Linked DNA regions of Homo sapiens. The protein of the gene in region 1 interacts with the protein of each later gene in a pairwise test. Each region holds a gene or a part of one and is shown on either strand. Other genes may lie near its edges.

Region 1 (7,043 bases):
CCTTCAGGGATAAAATTTCTTTGCAAAGCTGTGATTATTTTCTTAGACAAACTTGCAGAAATGGAATTACTGAATATAAATATGTGAGTGTATTATTACTGTTTGTTGTCTTAGGTTATGGAGACATCGGCTCAGTCCTCTGGAGACCATCAGGAGCAGCATGTTTCAGTCCAGGAAATGCAGGAACTCAAAGAAACGCTCAACCAAGCTGAAACAAAATCAAAATCACTTGAAAGTCAAGTAGAGAATCTGCAGAAGGTATGAGTGTGAGAACAGTCTGTTCCTAATTCTTTCCTGTTATACACCTAAAGAAATATGTGTTAACTACTGACACTTTGTCTTACCATGTGGGAATGGATACATTTTATTCTTTTTACTTTGAATGGCTCATGTATGTAAGTAGTACCCAATCATCTTCAAGTGTGCATTTAGTTGGTCTGACCACCATTTTTATACTTATACTTCCATTTAATCTTTTAAAAAGCAAATTAATAAGTTATACTTTAAGTTGCTACCACATACAGTTTATATTGAAATGATTGAATTCCATGGTGAATACTTTGTTTTCCTTTAAAGACATTATCTGAAAAAGAGACAGAAGCAAGAAATCTCCAGGAACAGACTGTGCAACTTCAGTCTGAACTTTCACGACTTCGTCAGGATCTTCAAGATAGAACCACACAGGAGGAGCAGCTCCGACAACAGATAACTGAAAAGGAAGAAAAAACCAGAAAGGCTATTGTAGCAGCAAAGTCAAAAATTGCACACTTAGCTGGTAAATATCTGTTTAAAGTTTGAACTTGGTAGTGAAAGTTGATTATGTGTTGCAGGCCTAAAACTAAATGGAATAGAAATAAAAGGTATCTACTTATGAAGGGTGTTTGTGTGTGTATGTGTGCTTTAAATATTAGGAATAATTAGTTGGACACAAAGAGCAATCCTAATTTTCAAGTGATGAGGATATCCTTGATATGATGAAATTTTTCTCAATTGTTGGCTGGCAGTAGATAATGGAATACTGCTATCCTTCTGCTTTCATGGATAACAATTCTATCTTGTGACAGAGATCCTTTGAGCCCAGACCGTGCTGTCTAGAAACCTTATGTAGACTGCATAAAGATCTTTACCAGCCCAGGGATTTTTTTGTGCCTCGTTTGGTGGAGGACCCCTCTAGCTTTTCAGGGAGAGTATCATGTCAAATTTATGAAGAACCTAGTTCTTCAAGGCTCAGGGCTTTATTCAGCCTTGCCTATCAGTCTGCTGAGTAGTTAAATAAAATGTCAAATCAGTTGGATTTTGTTACAGGCATTTTTTTAAAATGATCTCTAAGACAGTGTCCTAACAACTTACTTGATTTTAAAAGTTCTTGAATTATTTTTAAACAGTGCTGTAGATTATATGAAATAAAAATTTTGCAATTCATAGTAATGAATTGCATGATACATTGAAATATAAACGGGCTTCTGTTAACTAGGATCTTTAGCTTTTTGAGATTTTAGTTAGGAAAAAGTAAATTTTTATGTTGGAGTAAGTATATTTTATATTCTAGTAATAAGTTAAAGCATGAATGTACTTAGAACTTTGCTCATTGAGATGTATGATGTATCATAACTAATGTAGATGTTATAGTAGTAGAATCTGATGTGACCATGTGCCAATTAAGTGCATAAATGCTGTTTTAAATGTTTGATTATAATATTAATATAATCGCCTGGTTACTTCTTTAGGTGTAAAAGATCAGCTAACTAAAGAAAATGAGGAGCTTAAACAAAGGAATGGAGCCTTAGATCAGCAGAAAGATGAATTGGATGTTCGCATTACTGCGCTAAAGTCCCAATATGAAGGTCGAATTAGTCGCTTGGAAAGAGAACTCAGGGAGCATCAAGAGAGACACCTTGAGCAGAGAGATGAGCCTCAAGAACCTTCTAATAAGGTGATTAGCTAATTCTGCTTAAGTAACAAATTGTTTTTCTTTGTACATTTTACTTGAAAGTGCTTGGTGATATAGGAGCCTTTGTCAGTGAATTTTGGCTAAAATTCAATATATGCGGAGAGAATTAACAATAATGACAATTTTTTTGTGGCATTTTTAGTGGACTCTTGTGGGCTAGGAACAACAATCAAGAGCTTTCTCTTTATAGGTCCCTGAACAGCAGAGACAGATCACATTGAAAACAACTCCAGCTTCTGGTGAAAGAGGAATGTGAGTTTTAGTTATTTCATAGTCTGTTATTTTTCTTTTAAAGCTCAGGGAATATCTAGTGATCTTTCTGTTTAGGAAAAAGAAATCTGTGTATTCTATTGTAAAAACATACACTAAAGAGTTGTTTTCTCTGCAGAACTGTATCATGTATTTGCCAGCTTGTTTTCACCATACTTTCAGTCCTATCAGATGAAGCTTTGTGACAGAGAAAACGTCTCTCATCTTTTAGTTTACAGTTGGTTTCTAAGTTAGGCTGCTACTGATTTTCCCCGTGATGTTACATGATGACAGATAGAAAATGCTGGGCTGAGACTTGGGTTCAGCAATTCAACAGCTAGATACATTTTACATTGTCAGGATGCACCACTCTGGAGCATTCCCTGTGTAGTTTTTAATGCTTAAATTCAAAACAGCTTTAATAAGGCTCTGAAATATTTAGTGAACAAAAAAATGGAGACCTATACTCACTGTGTTTTTAAAAGTATTTGCATAATAATTTGTTATTAATTATTCTTCCATTTTCTCCTCTATAAGTGCCAGCACATCAGACCCACCAACAGCCAATATCAAGCCAACTCCTGTTGTGTCTACTCCAAGTAAAGTGACAGCTGCAGCTATGGCTGGAAATAAGTCAACACCCAGGGCTAGTATCCGCCCAATGGTTACACCTGCAACTGTTACAAATCCCACTACTACCCCAACAGCTACAGTGATGCCCACTACACAAGTGGAATCACAGGAAGGTTAGTAAAATAATACAGATCTGATGAGACTGCTTATTTAGATTTATTATGAGAAGATGACAGTAATTTCAAAGACAAATGAAGCATCCACTACAGCTGAAGTCACGTCATTGTAAAAATGGGTGTTTAATATTTGAAGGACATACTTCTAGGACCAAAATTTTCACTTGTAATGACAAAGAATATATGAAATCCACTTTGGAAAATCATACTGAATTACTGGCTCAATCCAACATTGCTTTCTCACTGAAACTGACCATTTCATTGCTTTCTTCAATTTTTTCCCATGACACTCTTGTTATTCATTACAGCAATTACAACTTTGTATTTTATTCTGTGGTATACATGCTTTTTACTCCACTACATTGAGCTCCTCAAGGGCAAAAATCTCAGCTTCTTATTGTTTAATCCCTTTACCTAACTCCACAGTAGGTGTTCAGTAAAACTTTGCTACCTGCATATTTCCTTAGATTCTTATCTTGACAAATGTTAGAATTCAGTAAATTATTCAAGTATTTCTGTGCTGTGAAAGTAGAGAATGTTTTATTTCAGCTACATCCAATAAACTAAATATATTACTAATCAAATTTACTATCTGTTATATCAATTAAAAACTAAATGATGCTTAATGAAAAATTCTAATTTTACTTTGAGCTTAATTTCATTAATTTTATTCAACAGTAATTTAAATGAATAGATGCAAAATCAGTTACAGATATTTATTTAATTCAGGCAACATTTTATTGCATGCTACCATATCAATTACATAGGGAATATAAAAATGCATAATACATTACCTTTACCTACAATGTATTTGTCTACCAAGTGCCAAATCTGTGTGAAAGGTGACATGTACCACAGAATAGGAAGGATAATTTCAGCTTTGATAAAAGTAGAAGGCTTATATTCAGCATTATAATTATTTTTCAGCTATGCAGTCAGAAGGGCCTGTGGAACATGTTCCAGTTTTTGGAAGCACAAGTGGATCCGTTCGTTCTACTAGTCCTAATGTCCAGCCTTCTATCTCTCAACCTATTTTAACTGTTCAGCAACAAACACAGGCTACAGCTTTTGTGCAACCCACTCAACAGAGTCATCCTCAGATTGAGCCTGCCAATCAAGAGTTATCTTCAAACATAGTAGAGGTTGTTCAGAGTTCACCAGTTGAGCGGCCTTCTACTTCCACAGCAGTATTTGGCACAGGTAAAATTAATTTTAAAATGAAGTCAGAGTAGACCTATGCATTTATAAGATCTTGAGTGTATCTTGAGTATATATATCTTGAGTATTCTTTGTACAAATGAAGTTAGAATAGACCTACGCAATTATAATATCTTGGATATAATACGTATCACAAGTATTCTTTGTGCATACATGCTTTCTACCAGGAATTAGAATGAATGAATATATTACTAACATTTTATTTCATGTTTACTACTGAATATGACTATTTTAAATCAGTTGTTTGTCATTAAGATGATTCTCCCCCTCCAGTTATTTTTTTTACTGGTCTTACATATTAATGCAAAACATTGTATATAATTTAACGGAAGTCCTGAGGACTAAAAGACACCTAAGATAAGACTATATACTGATTTACATACAGTGTACATTTTTTCTTATTCAAGGAGTCCTGAGTTTTATAGAAGGTCCCATGTAAACTTTGTAGATAACAACATAGTAATACAATCTCAGTGAACCAGATATATTGTAAAAATTGGCTGGCTTTATTAAGCAAAGCTTGGGTTGGTATAAAAACATTGACTCAGAGCATAAGTTGCTCTTTGTTTACCCATAGCTTAGCAGAAACAAATTATGTTGATGGACATTGATCTAGGAGTTGATTGATTGTATTTTAGTAATCTGTACAATTAAATGTTTACTGTGTTCTCCTTTAGTTAAGTGACCATATTGGGTAAACTATCTTTATCTAAATTGAGTTATTATCATGCTCTAATTCAAGATTTATATAATTTCAAAGTTTCGGCTACCCCCAGTTCTTCTTTGCCAAAGCGTACACGTGAAGAGGAAGAGGATAGCACCATAGAAGCATCAGACCAAGTCTCTGATGATACAGTGGAAATGCCTCTTCCAAAGAAGTTGAAAAGTGTCACACCTGTAGGAACTGAGGTGCGTAAAGTTCTTTCTGTGTATTTTAACTTTTACCAGTAGAGTTAAGGTACTCTTTTCAGCTACAGCCTAAAGAAAATTAACCTTTTGGGGCCAAAATATATTATCTGGAAAACACTTTTATTGAACTTTCTACAAAGATTCCACTGACAACCCAGGTATTATTACCAACAGTGTTTTATATTCTTGCATATCTTTAATTGCATTTGTTTCTATTTCAATAAAAAAGCTCAGTCATAAAAACATAAGTTGAATTTCATCTCGAAGTTTCTAAGTCTCATGGACATAAACTGTTACCTGCTATCTTTTTCTAAGATTAGCCAAAATTATATTCCTTTTTGTGGTTAAGATTAAATTGTAATGAAGCAGGTTTCAAATCAAACATTAAGGCTACTAAATTAATTGTATTAGCATGTATTAATGTTCATAAACCTTACTTTGTGTATACTGAGGAGGAATGTGATTATAATTTTTAAATAAAATTTTTTTATTTTTCTATAGTTTCATAAAATATAGATTTGAAGGGTTTTTTCAAATGAGAGAACTAACAAAAACAGGTAACCCTTCATCTACTACACTGATATGGTTAATATATTAGTGTATTATGATACAGGAAGAAGTTATGGCAGAAGAAAGTACTGATGGAGAGGTAGAGACTCAGGTATACAACCAGGATTCTCAAGATTCCATTGGAGAAGTAAGTAAAAACATACCTAAAGTACCACACCGTTGCTTTTCGTGAATGAAATTAGCTTTGACAAATTGAAACATTATTTGGTCTTTTTTTTTTTAGCTTGTTCTTATTATATGTAATGAAATACTACTAGAATTAATCATTGCAGAGTCTGCTTTCTTTTACTCCTATGAGTATAGTGTACTGCCTTCTAAACTTATATTAAAGAAATGTTTTTGTTCATATATAGCACAGATTTCCAGATTTTTTAGAGTTGTGAGCCAAGATTTTTCCCTATTTTAATTACATGAAATACAAGAGTGCTGGTTGCATCTTGAGTTAATTTATAGTGCCCCATTTGCTGGTTCTCTCTTACTCCCCTGTATTATTTCCCTTACAGAATTAAAGTAATCCATAAAAGGAAATGCATTTATATACCTCTTCATTTTTTGATCTCTCATTGAGGTTCCCCTAGCAGTTTTACTAGCGGAGAGAATATAGACCCTGAAGTTACAAAGCATGAGGTGTCATTCCTAGCTCCACCACTAGGAAGCTTTGTGACTGTAAGCATATCATTAATTCCCTGCATTGTCTCACTTGTCAAAAAATATAATTTTTAGGATTGTAAAATACCTAAAGTAGTACCTGCCACATATTAGGCACTCAGAATATTATTACTTTCCTTTCTTCCTTCTGTCCCACAAAATGAGAATTCATATTGTCATCAAGAAGACCCCCAGGGTGGCTAAATAGTGTTTAATAGAAAGGAGAGCTTTATTAGTGATATCATTTTGCTCATGAGGAAGAAATAGTCTCCAGCGTGGACCAAAGGTGTTCTGTCTTCACACAGGGCAGGGACAGGTGTGGTTTTATGCCTCACAGGGTCCTTATTACACAATAGAGTCATGCATATTCAGCAGGTTTTGGGGAAACGCTATACATATTTATGAGGGGAACTGAGCATATAAACAGTAGGTAAATATATATAATATACATCCCATGTTCACTTTGGGGCAGCGTTTTAGCATGAAAATGAGCTGGAATTTGGCTCTTTACGTGAAGAGTGAACAAAAGGTGAACTACAGGACACAAAGACAGTTTGTGCGCAGCCTCTTTAAGCAGGTTGAAACTAGCTTAAGGTGTCTGCAGTTCCTTGCCAGTGCTCTCTACAGTCAGAGTTGTAGTGGTCTGGATTGTAAATCAGAGATAGGAGTCTGATAACTTGCCCGATAGTTCCAGTTAGAGGAGTTTAGCAAAGGCTTATATTTTTTTATTGTAACCATATGAATTTAGA
Region 2 (2,626 bases), on another chromosome or scaffold:
CTTCAGTACAAAAGTATAAAACAAAACAATCTCAGTGACGAAAAACATGGCATATCAGAGAATAATCACTTTCTAGCCTTTGCTAGGTCATGGTTACTTTATCAGTGGGCAGTTCAGGGTCCACCTTCTCTACCACAAAAACTGATGATCCCCCAAAAGCAACGAGTCTTGGGGAAGCCCAACTGGGGGACTCATGCATTCAATGGCACATGGAGAGGGGTCTCTTCTGAAGTGCCTTCCTCCCCATTACATTGTTTTATTCTGTTATTATCAAAGCAAGGAGAAAATTATCAGTTGACCATTCACTATAACACACCAGGAAATTTCCTGGTGGCATAATGAAAATCATCTTGCTTTTGGTTTAGGAAAGATTATACCTCCTTGACTGGAATCACAAATTTTAGGCTTTGCAGCCAATCTGAAAATCAAAAGTTGAATGTTCCACTGAAGTTTCTCCGGCCCACAGGGCAAGGGGGAAAACAGTTCTCCAACAATGAGAATCTTAGCAAATATTTTATTAATACACACTGTCATAGTCCTAGGATAGAAGAGTCCTCAGAACACTGCTCCACATTGAAGATGCTGAAATGGGTGGTCAGGTCCTTAGTCTTCCTTCTAGTCTGTTAATCCCACACTCCTTTAACAGAACCATGCTTGCTGCCCTTACCCTGTCCACATCCCTGAAAGGAAACGGGTCTCTCTCAGCCAGATGCAGATAGTTGACACTCACTGCCTTTGCTATGGCAGGGGGCTCCTTATGATTAACCCAGAACAGGAAAAACTTAGTGTCAGCTGACCGAAAGGAACTCAGCCTTAATTTTTCAAAAAGTCACTCTCATTCCAGCTATCTCCAGGAAGGCGCTGGAGTATCTTCAGCATGAGCACAGAGATTCCCACTGCCGAAATATTCGGAATACTTTCCTTGATTTCTCAGAGAGACTCTGTAGGTAGAAAAGCTTATTATTAGTGATTACGTTCTTTTATAGAGACAAAGGATAGATCATTTGTCCCACAATGATCTGGATATGTCTAGGACTAAGTAAAAATTCATTTTGTAGTATGCTATACATAATGTATACCTAAAGTCAGACTAAAGATCGAGGGGCCAACGTTCTACTGTCAGACTCCTGTTAACACACTCTGAGCCTCTAAGACACGGCTCATATCCTCCCTTCAGGCATCTGTATCTGTCCTCATCTTTGTACTTGAGGATGACACTTCTGACTTGCCGTTAGTACAGCACATGTTTTGCACTGGTTTTTCTTTTTTTTTTTTTTTTTGAGACGGAGTCTCACTCTGTCACCCAGGCTGGAGTGCAGTGGCGCAATCTCGGCTCACTGCAAGCTCTGCCTCCCGGGTTCACGCCATTCTCCTGCCTCACCCAGTAGCTGGGACTACAGGCACCCGCCACCACTCCTGGCTAATTTTTTGTATTTTTAGTAGAGATGGGGGTCTCACCGTGTTAGCCAGGATGGTCTTGATCTCCTGACCTCGTGATCCGCCTGCCTCGGCCTCCCAAAGTGCTGGGATTACAGGCGTGAGCCACCACGCCCGGCCTGCACTGGTTTTTCATTCATGATGCTGAATTGGCCCTAGTTCATTATTTATTGTGAATAAGTACTTATACTTAATGTGATGCCTAGCTGAGGTTAACAGTATAAACCAAGGACAACTAATAAAAACAGAGTTGAATGACCCCTATGAGTTTAAGCTCTGGCCTTGGTCTTCACCGCTTTTATGTTTTAGCCAGCAGTGCTAATAATAGGAAGAATCGCAGTGCCATCTGATCATGCCAATGAAGTACTCTGAGATTCTGAGAAATGGTGGTAAAGGGAGACAAAGTAATTCATTAGGAGACAAAAGCTCTTGGTGAATCAGAACACTTGGTTCTGTCTGCCTTTGAGAGTCACAATGAAGAGCAAGTATTCCACGCAGAAAGGGTCTCAGTGAGAGTACAAAGAATGTCTAGCAAGATGATCCACAGTTACCTCCAGTTTCTCATATGACGCTTTCACAGGTTTTTTTTTTTTTTTTTTTTTTTTTTGAGACAGGTCTCGCTCTGTCGCCAGGCTGGAGTGCTGTGGTGCCATTTCAGCTCACTGCAACCTCTTGACTCCCTGGTTCAAGCGATTCTCCTGCCTCAGCCTCCTGAGTAGCTGGGATTACAGGCATATGCCACCACGCCCAGCTAATTTTTGTATTTTTAGTAGAGATGGAGTTTCACCATGTTGGCCAGGATGGTCTTGATCTCCTGACCTCATGATCTGCCTGCCTCGGCCTCCCAAAGTGCTGGGATTACAGGCGTGAGCCACTGCGCCCGGCCCACTTTCACAGTTTTTTAAAAATCTATCCTCTTTGAGGATGTTTCAATAAGTTCCAGGAGGAAAAAGTTTGAACTCTTACTAATGACTGAGGGAAATTTAGTTAATAGAGTGACAAAGTTGAAAGAAACCTGAGTTGAAAAAATAGTATACACTTTTTTCTTTTTTTTTTTTTTTTGAAAGGGAGTCTCACTCTGTTGCCCACGCTGGAGTGTAGTAGTGCGATCTCGGCTCACTGCAACCTCCACCTCCCAATTCTCCTGCCTCAGCCTCTGGAGTACTGGGATTACAGGTGCACACCAACA
Region 3 (7,043 bases), on another chromosome or scaffold:
CTAAGCTCCCAAATCCAATAAGACTCAATAGGAGCTAGGATTTCAATGCATACTAATAACAGGACCAAGGATTCAGGATGTCACGGGATCAAAGAATTGGGACTGAGGACATCTCAGTCTCTGACCCTAAGAAAAAAGAGGTTAAAGAGTAGCTAAATGTGGCCGGGAGCAGTGGCTCATGCCTGTAATCCCAGCACCTTGGGAGGCCGAGACAGGTGGATCACTTGAGCTCAGTAGTTGGAGACCAGCCTGGGCAACATGGTGAAACCTCATCTCTCATCTCTACTAAAAATGCAAACATTAGCCAGGTGTGGTGCTCGACCGTAGTCCCAGCTACTCTGGAGGCTCAGGTGGGAGGATTGCTCATGCCAGGGAGGTTAAGGGTGCAGTGAGCCCTTCAGCCTGGGCAACAGAATGAGACTCTGTCTCAAAAAAAAAAAAATAGCTAAATGAAATAGGTTTAACAGCCAACATTTGTTGAATGCTTTCTATTTTCCAGGGACTGTACTAAGTACTTGACATGTATTCTCACTTAATCCCCACAAAACACTGCAGAGACAGTAGTAGTATTGTATTTTGTAGATGAGAAAACCAAAGCACCAAAAGTTCAAGCATTTTGCCCAAGGTCACACAGTGACAGATTTGAACTCAATCTGGTTCAAATACGACAATGTTCTGTGCCACTTAAAGTATTTCCACCTTGGAAATTCACAGTGCATAGTATTGTTTATACTTCTGAAAATTCCTAAAGGAAAAATTCCCCCTGTAGCATTTTTAGATTCAGCTACTCCCAAACTTACTTAACTTTTCTACCCTATCTGTTCTTATCACCCAAAAAAAGATTTGTCATAATTGAGCACAGTTATACAGACAGTAAATAACAAAAATCTTTTGTTAGAACTGAGTTTTAATTTGACTTTAACCTATAATAATAGCCAATGTTTTTTGAGTGCCTGCTTTGTGCCAAAACAGTTCTAAGTGCTTTATATTTACTAACTCATACCATTCTCCCAATAGTCCTATCAAGTAGATACTCTTATTAGCCCCTTCTTAGTGATAAGAACCCGAAACACAGAAAGGTAAGCCGTTTGCCCAAGATCTTACAGCTCCTGAAGGCAGAGCTGGGCCCCATCCAGGCAGTCTGGCCATAGAGGCTGCACACCTGCTTACCATGCTTCATTGTTCATTGCCCCTACTACCTTCGGACCAGGCTCAGGTAGACTTAGCCCTTCCGTAGTCCATAAGTTATACCTGAAATTCTCAAGATCTTTCAAGTCACTCTTAAAATATCAAATATTTTTACTAGGTCCTGGTGAATTTTCCTCGATCTCTTACCTTTTCTGATCCTTCCCCACTGCATACTATAGCACACTAGACCACTCACCAGTCTTCAGCAGCCTAGCCTTGTAGCAGGGAACATGTGTGCACTGTAGTTAAACAGACCTGGATTCAAATTCAGGCTCCATCATGGGCTAGGGTTGATACCTTGTACAAGTTACGTGAATCACTTTGAGCCTCAATCTCATCTGAAAAATGGGATTAACGATAGTAATTTCCTCATACAGTGGTTTAGGGGATTAAATAAAGCAGACATGTAAAGCTCTTACCCCAGTGTTATACTTGTTTTTGTTGTGTTTGTCATTGACCTCATTGTACTTATTGTTAGTAGCATTAGTATTATCTTAACATTTGCCTGTTCTTAAAGAATCATTTTTGTTTTCTGTTTGTTTTGTTTTTGAGGCAGGGTCTCACTCTGTGGCCCAGGCTGGATGCAGTGGGACAATCATAATTCACTGCAGTTTCTATTTCCCAGGCTCAAGTGATCCTCCTGCCTCAGCCTCCTGAGTATCTGGGACTACAAGTGCTTGCCACCTCGCCTGGCTAATAAGAATAATTTCAAATTCCACTTCTTCTATTAAGAATACTGTAATTCCAAACAAACATTGTCTATATTCTGAAATAATTCCTTTTTGTACTCTAGAGCATTTTGCCTTAAATTATTGTCTGATTTTTTCATAATTCTCTTTTCTAGATAGAAAGTTTCTTGAGATCAAGGATTATGTCCTTTATCTTTGACTTCTGTTGGAATTAATACAGTGTTTTGTGTATGTATGTATGTATACAGTAGATCTTCATTATTCACAGATTTTGTATTTTTGAATTTCCCTCCTCACTAAACTTTATTTGTAACCCCAAAATCAATGCTCATAGCACTTCTTTAGTCACAGACATACGCAGGGAGCACAGAACAACAAAAAGTTTGAGTCCGCTTATGTGCACTTGCTCACCTAAAATTGAACAAGGTGAACTCTGGCTTCTTATTTTAGCTTTCATACTGTAAATATGTGTCTTTTCCTCGTCAGTTTAGTGCCACATTTTTAACATTTTTGTACTTTTTGTGGGTAATTTTACTGTGTAAAATTTTACTGTGTAAAATCATCCCCAAGCACAGTAATGTAGTGCTGGCTAGTGTTCTAAGTGCAAGAAGGCTGTGATGTGCCTTATGAAGAAAATAAATGTGTTAGGTAAGCTTTGTTTAGGCATGAGTTATAGCACTGTTCATGGTGAGGTCTATATTAATGAATCAGTATATATTAAGTAAGATATCTTTAAAAAGAAGCACAATTTTCAAAAGCTACGTATTGATCAGTCATCAAAAAGGCTGGCAGGGAACCTAACTGTGTATTTCCCCAGTGGTTCAGTATTCACTAGTTGAGTGTTTGCAGCAACTTTATAATAACAAACTACCATGAATAATGAAATTGACTATCCATGTGTGTGTGTATAACATAGATGCTCAGTAAAAGCCTGTTAGATGAATAATAGAATAAATGATGTTTTATGTGTTTAGGAAAGTACAAAAGTACGTTCTTAAAGAACAGTCACATTTTAGCCATACAGTAAGTTTTTGAATCTGATATAATTATCCTCCATTTTACAGATATGAAAGATAACTCCAGGTCACTCAACAGGTTTAAATGGTACAGCTCAGGAGTTTTGATGCCAAATCCCACATTCTTGCCAATCTACCACTACTATTTACACCCTCAAGGATTTTTCAACTTAATAGAACCAGAATTAAAAGAACACTGCTTAAAAGTAAGGACTTTACAGAGATGTAGAGAGTGGAAAAGCATTTTATTCAGGCATCAACTACTCATGCACTTAGATACTCGTAGCAATCTCATACCTTATCTCCCACAGATGGGTATAGCAATGCCATGATTCCTTGAGATTAAGAAAAATTTTTTCACATTTTATTATTTTGTAAAATTGGAATTTATATTATAATTAATTTGTGCGTTTGATAAAGTATTTCACACATAAAACTTACCAGTGTATTAAACATCTTAACTCAATGGTATCTTAGAGTAAAGGAAATAGTGAAGTAATAGCTACTATTTTTTGAGTGGGTGGCTACTATTTGTCAAGCATTACATTGAGGTACTTTACCCACATTACTATTTAATCATCACAACAATCCTGCAGCCATTCTTATCCTCCCATCTCCATTTTAGAAATGAGAAAGCTGCCAGTCACATGGCAGTCACTCAGCTTATAAGTGAAGGAAGCGGCGTGTCTGTGCTCTTTAACTATGCTGCCCTGCCTTCCATTCTAGAAACAAACTTCAGTTGCATAAGTATGTGTAACACATAAATGTCTGTCTCTCTTGAGAGATACATACTTAGCTATTCTTTCTAGACAATATAACTAACATAACTTAAAAGTAACTTTTCCCAGAAGGAATTGTTAAATTGATCTCTTCTTCTTAGTGACGGCACATCATCACTTAAAATTCTACCAAATCTCAAAATCTTTTTTTTTTTTTTAAAGAAGGAATTTCGCTCTTGTTGCCCCGGCTAGAGTGCCGTGGCACAATCTTGGCTCACTGCAACCTCTGCCTCTCGGATTCAAGCAGTTCTGCCTCAGCCTCCCGAGTAGCTAGGATTACGCGCATGCCACCACAACCGGCTAATTTTTTTTTTTTTTTTAGTAGAGACGGGGTTTCACCATGTTGGCCAGGCTGATCTCGAACTCCTGACCTCAAGTGATCTGCCCGCCTCAGCCTCCCAAAGTGCTGGGATTACAAGCGTGAGCCACCACACCCGGCCAAATCTTGAATTGTTTATCTTGCCAGTTTTCTCTAAGGTTTTTTATATTCTCTAGAGATTTTTACATAGCCTCTTCCTTTACATTTGATCTTCCATTTGTAATATAGGTTGAGGATCCTTATCTGACATTCTTGGAACTAGAAGGGTTTCAGATTTTGGAATTTTTTGCATTTTGTAATATTTGCATATACATGAGATACCTTGGGAATGGGACCCAAGTCTAAACATGAAATTCATTTATGTTTCATGTATACCTTATACACATGACCTGATGATAATTTTATATAACTTTTTTTAATAATTTTGTGCATGAAACAAAGTTTGTGTTAAGTGCTTATATGTGGAATTTTTCACTTGTGGTATCATGTTAGCACTCAAAAAGTTTTAGTTTTTGGAGCATTGCAGATTTTCAGATGAGGAATGCTGAACCTGTATATTGCAAATGTTTACATTTTACCGTACAACAGTGAATCTCTGCTTACACTTCAGGTATAGTTAGTGAGATAAGTGATTGAGTTTCTTTTTATTTTTCTGTCTTACAGCTAATGGTTGCAGAGAAGAATGGAACAATCCGGTTTTATGATCTTTTGGCCCAACAGGCTATTTTATCTCTTGAATCAGAACAAGTGCCATTAATGTCAGCACACTGGTGCTTAAAAAACACCTTCAAAGTTGGAGCCGTTGCAGGAAATGATTGGTTAATTTGGGATATTACTCGGTCCAGGTACTTTCTTGATATGTTTGTCTATTACACACCAAAAAAAGGCAGTAACTGTTGCTAAATGATCCACTCATCCATCCTGTTATACCTGAGACTATGCTGTCAAGCGAAAGCAAGTCTTTCCTATAGAAGGCCAGAGCTATGGATTTTTATATAACATAAACTTGCTATGCAGATTTACTCTGGGAGTAACCCAGAAAGGACAGTGCAAAAGAGGAAATCTTGGATCTGTGCAATGTTGACTTATATTGGAAAATAAGAAAAACACTGACCCTGTTGCATGATGGTTCCCTGCAGTGGTTCTAAGTCATGTCTTTATTGTATTTCATCTGTTTTAACTGATTGCTTGTTTAGGATTTATTATAGTTTAAACACATTGGACATTCTGTCCTATAAAGAGAAAATACTGTTTAAACCTTAAGTTCACCCACTTGAGTTTAACACATAATTCATAAAATGCAAAATATTATCTTTTAGTTATCCTCAAAATAAGAGACCTGTTCACATGGATCGAGCCTGCTTATTCAGGTAATGTACCGTTTTTGTTGGAGCTGTGATTTGATCTTTTGACGTTGCTGTGCCACCACTGGGATACTTTTGTAGTTCTCTTCTTTGCACTGGATTTTTTTTTTCCCTTATTGTTTTATAAGTGGTTATTTTACTTTCCCGACTAAGTCATTGCCTTTGTCTTTTGGTCTAGACAAGGAGTTGATTTGTTTTCCAAATATTTTCTTTACACAGAAAAACATGTAACCACTCCACCACTACCACCCCTACAATTTGGAATATATTATGCTTCCTGATTGTTCTGTGCTGTTAAGGATGTAAATGTAGGGGAGCCCATGTTCATGTATATAAACTTTATTATTATGTGTTAAATGAAACTATGCTAGATAGTATATCTCTGCGACATGTTTTTGCTTTTCACTTAAATTAACATACATGTCTACCTTGTTCTTTTTCATAATACTCCATTGTATAGTGTGGTCCTTAAGCCATTATTTCTGCTTTTTAAGTAACAGCAAAACCAAATAAGAGACTAAAACCAGTGAAATTTTATTATATGCTATATTCCAATAAGTTGTAGAACTTAGGGATACCATTATTAAGAATAAAATACATTCGACTAAATGTAAGAATGCCATGGATCGTTAAGATACATCCTGACTTCAGAGATGTGTGAACAAATATACACCAATGAGCAAGTATCCATCAATTTTAAAATCAATGAGCTATGGTACTTATAAGTCTAGAGGAGGTAGTCTCAGGGCTTGTTGAGCAGCTCATCAATGTCATCAAGAGCTCAGACCCTTTTCATCCTTTCCCTCTGCTATTCTCAGTGTCAAGGATTGGGACTTGTTGCTTCATAGTTACAAGATGGCTGTGAGAGTTCCAGGCATAAGAGAAGTACTCCATTTGCCGAACAATTAAACAAAAAAAAAAAAGTAAGAGGAGAAGAAGGAACCCTCTCCTTTTATGGGAGATTGCTATGACTGCCTTAAACTAATTATGTCTCATCCCCTAGGGTAGGACACACTGTGCCCTGAACAAAGTTAGGCTTCACTTAGCATGGAAAAGGGGCAGAATGGCTGTCATATTTGATGCCTTATTTGTTTCTTCTACCACACTATTACCCCTTTGGTTGTGAAAAAAAGGATTGTATCAACCTTGTGTAACTTTGGAACTTAATGAAATGACACAAAATAAGCACTTCATAAAACTTAAAGTATGAGAAAATATTTATGGAATATTTTCCTGGAATTCCCGGTCTAATTGTAAAGACATATTAACAAATTTAGGATTATTAAAATCACTGGTTTTATACAAAAAGAAACCTGTTTCTGTCTAGGTGCTATGGCTCATACCTATAATCCCAGCACTTCAGGAGACCAAGGCAGGAGGATCACTTGAGGCCAGGAGTTTGAGACCTGCCTGGGCAAGATAGCAAGACCCCATTCCTACAAAAAACAAAAAATTAAAACTTACCTGGGCATCGTAGTACACACCTGTAGTCCCAGCTACTAGGGAGGCTGAGGTGGGAAGATCACTTGAGCCCAGGAATTTGAGGCTACAGTGAGTTTTGTTAGCACTTCTGCACTCCAGCCTGGGTGACAGAGCAAGACCCTGTCTCTTAAAAAAAAAGAAAAAGAAAAAGAAAAAGCCCGCTTCAGAAAAGCTTGTCATTATCCATAGGATACGATACTTAATTT

The links.
Region 2: the proteins of TPR (region 1) and ZC3HC1 interact in a two-hybrid assay, tested with the Homo sapiens proteins (one study listed by BioGRID).
Region 3: the proteins of TPR (region 1) and NUP37 interact in a two-hybrid assay, tested with the Homo sapiens proteins (one study listed by IntAct).

The regions. Positions count from the first base shown.
Region 1 is NC_000001.11:186,330,228-186,337,270, reverse strand, and holds part of TPR (nucleoprotein TPR), read left to right. Parts: intron 1-114; coding exon 115-258; intron 259-576; coding exon 577-775; intron 776-1,727; coding exon 1,728-1,933; intron 1,934-2,141; coding exon 2,142-2,203; intron 2,204-2,737; coding exon 2,738-2,946; intron 2,947-3,876; coding exon 3,877-4,149; intron 4,150-4,927; coding exon 4,928-5,076; intron 5,077-5,689; coding exon 5,690-5,773; intron 5,774-7,043.
Region 2 is NC_000007.14:130,017,792-130,020,417, forward strand, and holds the end of ZC3HC1 (zinc finger C3HC-type protein 1), read right to left. Parts: intron 942-2,626; coding exon 873-941; 3' UTR 501-872; downstream 1-500. UniProt on the Homo sapiens protein: Required for proper positioning of a substantial amount of TPR at the nuclear basket (NB) through interaction with TPR.
Region 3 is NC_000012.12:102,075,115-102,082,157, reverse strand, and holds part of NUP37 (nucleoporin Nup37), read left to right. Parts: intron 1-2,941; coding exon of another isoform or gene 2,942-2,947; exon of another isoform or gene 2,948-3,096; intron 3,097-4,654; coding exon 4,655-4,836; intron 4,837-5,310; coding exon 5,311-5,361; intron 5,362-7,043. UniProt on the Homo sapiens protein: Component of the Nup107-160 subcomplex of the nuclear pore complex (NPC). The Nup107-160 subcomplex is required for the assembly of a functional NPC.